Linked DNA regions of Homo sapiens. Changing the gene in region 1 together with any one later gene gives a genetic interaction. Each region holds a gene or a part of one and is shown on either strand. Other genes may lie near its edges. The genes, in order: PDCD7 and METAP2.

Region 1 (3,789 bases):
GACCAGGGAGTGATCAGTGAGGGGCCGAGAGAGATGTGGGTTGGTGGCCCAGGCTCAGCAGCCTACATCTCTTCATGGGGTCTTTAGGCTAACATAGGATGATGGAGTATCTGTGTATTTCGCCATAGACAGATTTTAGTAGTTGCAACAGAGACTGTATGGCTTACAAAATCTAAAATATTTACCTGTAAAGGTAAAGAAATGAAACAAAACCGTTAGATTATTATAAAACAGAGTGACAGCTTAAATTTGTCAGTGTATAAGAATTTTGTGTATACTTGAAAAACACTGGCCTGGCAACTTAGTAGAAGATAAATTTGAGTTGTAGTGTTTCTGTAGTTGAGAATGAGTGAATGGAAACCTGTAGAAGCAAAGCAGTTAGGAGAAAATCATCTAGAGAAATGTTAGCCTTGAGAGTGAGTTCCACAACCACTTAGCTGTAGTGGTTGAAGGAGGAAAGAATCCTACCTCCAAATTACAACTTTACAAGAAACAGAACTACTAACCTTGAGAAACCATTATTTATGCCATTTATCAGCCCAAACTGAAAATTTAGTGCTCAAAGCTGGCACTATTGTATAACACAAGTTGCAGCATAAATTGTTAAAACCCTGTTGAAGGGCCGGGCATGGTGGCTCATGCCTGTAATCCCAGCACTTTGGGAGGCCGAGGTGGGAGGATCATGAGGTCAGGAGATCAAGATTATCCTGGCCAACATGGTGAAACACTGTCTCTACTAAAAATACAGAAATTAGCTGGGAATGGTGGCACATGCCTGTAATCCCAGCTACTCGGGAGGCTGAGGCAGGAGAATCGCTTGAACCCAGGAATCAGAGGTTACAGTGAGGTGAGATCGCGCCACTGTACTCCAGCCTGGTGACAGAGCGAGACTCCGTCTCAAAACAAAACAAACAAAAAAACCTTGTTGAAAATCATTCATTCATTGAAGAAGTATCTATTAATTACCTTCTCTGTGTCAAGTGTTTGGTAACTGAGCAAATATATAGCTTTTTTAGGAAGCAGTTTAGAACACAGTTTGTTAGTCTTGAAAGTATTCACAAACATTTCCATTTTTGAGAATTTTTCTTTCTTTTTTTTTTTTTGAGACAGAGTTTCACTCTTGTTGCCCAGGCTGGAGTGCCGTGGTGCGATCTCGGCTCACTGTAAGCCCCGCTTTCTGGTTTCAAGCGATTCTCCTGCCTCAGCCTCCTGAGTAGCTGGGATTACAGGCACCTGCCACCACGCCCGGCTAATTTTTGTATTTTTAGTAGAGACAGGGTTTCACCATGTTGGCCAGGCTGGTCTCAAACTCCTGACCTCGTGATCCACCCGTCTCAGCCTCCCAAAGTGTTGGAATTACAGGAGCCACCCTGCCCGGCCAAGAATTTTTCTGATAGAAATCCCTAGGAAGGAAAAAAGTAACATGCCCAAGAATATTCATTGTATCACAATATAATAACAGGACATTTGGAATAGCTTAGGTGTCCAGGAGTAGGGAACTTGATAAGTATATTCTAGTGTATTGATTTGATGAAATAGGATACAGCCATTAAATAATTATGAAGATTGGAGAAGAACGTACAGAATCAACAGGGAGAAGTGGAAATTACATACATGTAACGTTGAACTATATGAAGTTGCTAATACATGGACAAAAAGACCTGAAGAGAATGTGAGAAAGTATAAAATGGTTGATTATGGTAATGGGATTAGGATTTTTTTTTTCTTTCTTGTATCTGGTATTCTTTTTTTTTAAATTTATTTTTTTGGAGATAAGAGTCTTGCTCTGTCACCCAAGCCAGAGTGCAGTGGCATGATCTTGGCTCACTGCAGCCTCCACCTCCTGGGTTCAAGCGATTCTCCTGGCTTAGCCTCCTGAGTAGTTGGAACTACAGGCGCACGCCACCATGCTCGGCTAATTTTTTGTATTTTTAGTGGATATGGGGTTTCACCATGTTGGCCAGGCTGGTCTTGAACTCCTGAGCTCAGGCAACCTGCCTGCCTCAGTCTCCCAAAGTGCTAGGTTTACAGGTGTGAGCCACCACGCTTGGCCCTGTATCTGGTATTGCTAAAATGCTTGGGTAACATATTTTCCTTTAAAATCTTCAAGGACTGACAGGATAGATCACATCCACATCACTCTACATTGATTCACCTGGAAGCTTTTGTATTACAGGGCCATTATGGTAGTGAGTGCACAATTGCAGTCCACTCAAATATTCATTAAGTTAAAATCTTTTTTTCTTATGAAACTTTATGAAACATTTCACACATGCACAAAAATAGAATACATAAACACTCATCATCAACTATGATACCATTGTCACACCAAAAAAATTAGCAGTAATTCTTTGATATCACCTAATAACCTGACTATTTTCTCCACTGTGGCTTTAGATATGTTGGCTATACTGTTAGCTGACCTCATAGTTAAATCAGGATAATAACCATCCCAGTTTTACTGGGACTTGGGGCTTTCAGTGCTACATGCAGGCAAACCAAAACAGTTGGTCAGCCTACTGTCAGCAGCAGACTGCAAGGTCAGTGTGGTTGTTTTAAGTGTATCTTCCTCACCATCCAAGTGTGCACTCCCAAAATTCACACTCAGTCAGAGGAAGAATTGTTTATTAATTAGATCTGGGAGTTGATGCTAAGGGAATTTCACAAACAATGAAGTTAAGACAAGTTCCTCCCTTTAGTGAGCTCACTGTTTCAAGTGGAGGATCAAGACCATTAGAAATAAACAAAGTCGAAGCCAGGTATGGTGGTTCACGCCTGTAATCCCAGCACTTTGGGAGGCCAAGGTGGGTGGATCACCTGAGGTCAGGAGTTCGAGACCAGCCTGACCAACATGGAGAAACATCTACTAAAAATACAAAAATTAGCCGGGTGTGTTGGTGCATGCCTGTAATCCCAGCTACTCAGGAGGCTGAGTCAGGAGAATCGCTTGAACCCGGGATGCGTGGAGTTTGCAGTGAGCTGAGATCGCACCATTGCCCTCCAGCCTGGGCAACAAGAATGAAACTCCATCTCAAAAAAAAAAAAAAAAAAAGAAAGAAAGTCAGAGGTTAAGTGGTGTGGATGATCCAGAGGGAGGAGTTGAGAAAGTCAGGGTAGGGTCAGAGTAATTGAATACTCAGAAACATCAAATTGAGCCTTAAAAGATTGGGTAAAATTTCTAAATTTTAACCGATACATACTATAGCTAGGACTTTTAAACTTCCTCATTATAACACAAATTTTGGGATAAGAAAACGTGTGTAAAAGGCCATTTGGGCTGGATGCAGTGGCTCACTTTGGGAAGCCAAGCTGGTAGGATTGCTTGAGGCCAGGAGTTAGAGATTAGCCTGGGCAACATAGCAAGACCTCATACAAAAAAGTTTTGGTCTTTTTTTTTGGAGACGGAGTCTCACTCTGTTGCCCAGGCTGGAGTGCAGTGGTGTGATCTCCGCTCACTGCAAGCTCCACCTCCCAGGTTCACGCCATTCTCCTGTCTCAGCCTCCCGAGTAGCTGGGACTACAGGTACCTGCCACCATGCCTGGCTAATTTTTTGTATTTTTAGTAGAGACGGGGTTTCACCGTGTTAGCCAGGATGTTCTCAATCTCCTGACCTCGTGAGACCTCATACAAAAAATTTACAAATTAGTAGGTAGGGCCAGGCACAGTGGCTCATGCCTGTAATCCCAGCACTTAGGGAGGCCAAGGCAGGGGGATTGCTTGACCAGGAGTTTAAGACCAGCTTGAGAAACACAGGGATACCCTGTCTCTACAAAAATAAAAAAAAAATT
Region 2 (3,824 bases), on another chromosome or scaffold:
TTAGTGTCACTATGAGAAAACCATGAAGAGGAGTACACATTGGCACCTCAGCCACCCTTTTGTGTGCACATGTAGTCATTACTGATTGTTATTTTCTATCTGGAAATCTGTTATTTTGCTATCTAACAAGTCATACTAAGAAATAAGAAAGTATTGGAGCAATTGCCCAAATACAGAACATGATGATAATACAGTAACAAAACCAATTCAAGTAATTATTCTCTAGTTTTTCCTTTTGATAAATGGTTAGTATAACATGTAATTCTCTGATTCCTACAATTTAAAAAATATACAACATGAACAAATAAGATCAGCATTTAAATTGGTCTAAGTTAGACTCTTATTTTCTAGTAAATTTAGTTAAAAGTGGATTGTGTTTCTCTGACTTTCTAGCAGAATCAAATTCCTTGTCTTCTAAAGATATGCTATTTTCATAGCATCAGAGAACTGTTATTTATTTATATTCAGAAAGTGCTCAGATCATTCCCAGAAGGTATTTAAGGTTTTTAGTAAACTTTCTGGACTTGATGAACTATATGGTATTAATATATAAAAGTAAGAATGTAAAAGTAAACAAGTTCCCTTTGCTTTTTTGTTTTAGTGAAAAGTTGGAAGACTGTTCACGCAAGTTAATAAAAGAGAATGGATTAAATGCAGGCCTGGCATTTCCTACTGGATGTTCTCTCAATAATTGTGCTGCCCATTATACTCCCAATGCCGGTGACACAACAGTATTACAGTATGATGACATCTGTAAAATAGACTTTGGAACACATATAAGTGGTAAATTCTTGCAGAAAATTCCTACCCCAGCCTCCTCCTGAAAAACTAGTTTTTGTCTCTGTTAAATGGAGTGATAAATACTGAACTCCCAAATTTTGTTCTTGCTTCCTCATTTCATTAGGAAAGGTGTGTTGAGGCAGATTTTTAAAAAAATTTTAGTGCACTTATAGGAGAGAGAGGCAGTTGTGACATTTACTTGAAAGCATACTACTAAGTAGAATAAAATGAAAACTGTTGGGTAGTTGAGGTTTATTACCCTTTGTATCAAGGCATGAAAGACATTATCCTACCTTTCTTTAGGTCATTGTTTCATATCTCTTTTATTCAAATAATAACATTTATTTAAAATACTTAAGTTTATCAGCCTTAATATACATGTTTGCTTTTCTGAATTCTCTCCAAAACCTGGTTAGGTAAGCACCTTGTTATCTTACTTACAAGTGAGAAAGCAAGCTTAGAATAAATACTTGCCTAAGGTTTCACTACCTTGGAAAAGTAAAAGTATATTCAGAGCCCTGTATACTTTCTCTGCCCTGCGTTACTATTTCTCATTTCCCTAGTCTTTTCTTGTATTCATTTTGTTTCTGTTTATATGTTTGTATAACTGCCAGGGTGAGCACTGAACTGGTGCTGTCTTGGGGTAATATATACTAACCTTGTAATTCTTTCTATTCTGAATCCTTTATATACTTCTACATTTTGTCTCTTTGATTATGAATGATCTTTGGGTATTTGGAGTGCAGCCTTCATTTGAGCCTTCATTCTATTTTTCTGTTAAACTAGCAAGATTAATAGATTAAATGCTGTAAAGTAGATAAATTGACTAGCTGATAAGTAAAATTAAAAGAGGAATTTTCTCTTTCAGGTAGGATTATTGACTGTGCTTTTACTGTCACTTTTAATCCCAAATATGATACGTTATTAAAAGCTGTAAAAGATGCTACTAACACTGGAATAAAGGTATGTGAACTGTAAGCACCATTTCATTCCCAATATTTTGAGCACTTTAAGGTCTTTTAAACACTTAACAGCATTTAAGCACTTTTAAGGCCTGTTTAAGGGCTTTGGGTAATTAAGAGGAATAAAATTGATCCATTTCCCTTATGGTTTTAAGCGGGTAAGTGTATGATTGTGTACCAAAGGTTGTTTTTTTGTTTGTTTGTTTGTTTCCCTTGAACTTTGCTAAAATTTATTAAAACAGAGTTTGGATCTATTTTTGCCTGTCAGTTGGCAGTGGTTTTTTTGTGGTTCTTTTTTAGAACAATTTTAGGTTCATAATAAAATTGAGCAGAAAGTACAGAGATTTCCCTTATACCCACCCCTCCCCAATTTCCTCCATTGTCAGCATCCCCACCACATAGGTATATTTGTTAAAATCATTTGAACTAGCATTGACCACATCACAATTATTCAAAGTTCATAGTTAACATTAGGGTTCATTCTTAGTAATATACATAAGGGGTTTGACAAATATATAATGACACGCATCTACCATTATAGTATCATACAGAGTATTTTCATAGCCACCAAAATCTTCTGTGCTCAACTGATTCATCCCTCTCTGTCCACCAAACTCTGGTACAGCCCAGCTTTTCCCCACCCACTCAAATTTTTTTTTTTTTTGGAGGGAGGTGCAGTTAAAATAGACATTACATAAAATTTACCATATTAACTTTTTCTTTCTTTTTTTTTTTTTTTTTTTTTGAGATGGAGTCTTACTCTGTTGCCCAGGCTGGAGTGCAGTGGCACGATCTCGACTCACTGCATCTTCTGCCTCCTGGTCTCAAGTGATACTCCTGCCTCAGCCTCCCGAGTTGCTGGGATTACAGGCACGCACAACCACTCCCGGCTGATTTTTATGTTTCTAGTAGAGATGGGGTTTCACCATGCTGGCCAGGCTGGTCTCAAACTCCTGATCTCAAGTGATCCTCCCGCCTTGGCCTCCCAAAGTGCTGGGATTACAGGCGTGATTCACCGCGCCTGGCCATTTTTAAGTATGTTGTTCATTGGTATTAAGTACATTCATAATATTGTGCAGCCATTATCACCATTCTTCTCTGTTTACTCTTCATGTTATAAAACTGAAACTCTATACTCATTAAACAGTAACTCCCATTTTCCTCTTCTCCCCCTACCCTGGCAACCACCATTCTACTATATATGATTTTTACTGCTGTAAGTACCTCATATAGTGTTTGTTGTTTTGTGACTGGTTTATTTCACTTAGCACAATGTACTCAAGGTTCACCTATGTTGTAGCATGTGTCAGAATTTACTTCCTTAAGGCTAAATAATCTATTGTGTGTATATACCACATTTTTGCTTATCCATTCATCCACTGATAGACACTTGGATTGCTCCGATGTTTTAGCTATTGTGAATATTGCTGCTATGAATACGGGTGTATAGATACCTCTTCAAGGTCTGTTTTCAATTCTTGGGTATATACCCAGAAGTGGATTTGGGAATCATCTGGTAATTATATCTTTTTAAACTTTTTGAGTATCTTCTCTACTACTTTCCACAGTGGCTGTACCATTTTCATTCCCACCAACAGTATGCAAGGAAAGGCTCCAATTTTTCCATTTCCTTGCCAACACTATTTTCTGGGTAGTTTTTGTTTGTTTTTTGTTTTTAATCTTTGGAGAAATGTCTATTCAAGTTTTTTGCCCATTTTTATTTATTTATTTTTTAATTAAAAAATGTAGGCCAGATGTGGTGGCTCATGCCTGTAATCCCAGCACTTTGAGAGGCCAAGGCGGGTGGATCACGAAGTCAGGAGATGGAGACCATCCTGGCTAACATGGTGAAACCCCGTCTCTACTAAAAATACCAAAAAAAAAAAATAGCTGGGTGTGGTGGCGGGCGCCTGTGGTCCCAGCTACTGAGGAGGCTGAGGCAGGAGAATGGCGTGAACCTGGGAGGCGGAGCTTGCAGTGAGCCGAGATCGCCCCACTGCACTCCAGCCTGGGCGACTGAGCGAGACTCCATCTCAAAAAAAAAAAAAAACAGTAGAGATTGGGGGTGTTGCTTTGTTGCCC

What was found.
Region 2: changes in PDCD7 (region 1) and METAP2 together harm fitness more than expected from each alone (negative genetic interaction), as found in Homo sapiens cells (one large-scale study listed by BioGRID).

What each region holds. Positions count from the first base shown.
Region 1 is NC_000015.10:65,120,317-65,124,105, reverse strand, and holds part of PDCD7 (programmed cell death protein 7), read left to right. Parts: intron 1-3,789. UniProt on the Homo sapiens protein: Promotes apoptosis when overexpressed.
Region 2 is NC_000012.12:95,494,356-95,498,179, forward strand, and holds part of METAP2 (methionine aminopeptidase 2), read left to right. Parts: intron 1-601; coding exon 602-783; intron 784-1,648; coding exon 1,649-1,743; intron 1,744-3,824. UniProt on the Homo sapiens protein: Cotranslationally removes the N-terminal methionine from nascent proteins. The N-terminal methionine is often cleaved when the second residue in the primary sequence is small and uncharged (Met-Ala-, Cys, Gly, Pro, Ser, Thr, or Val).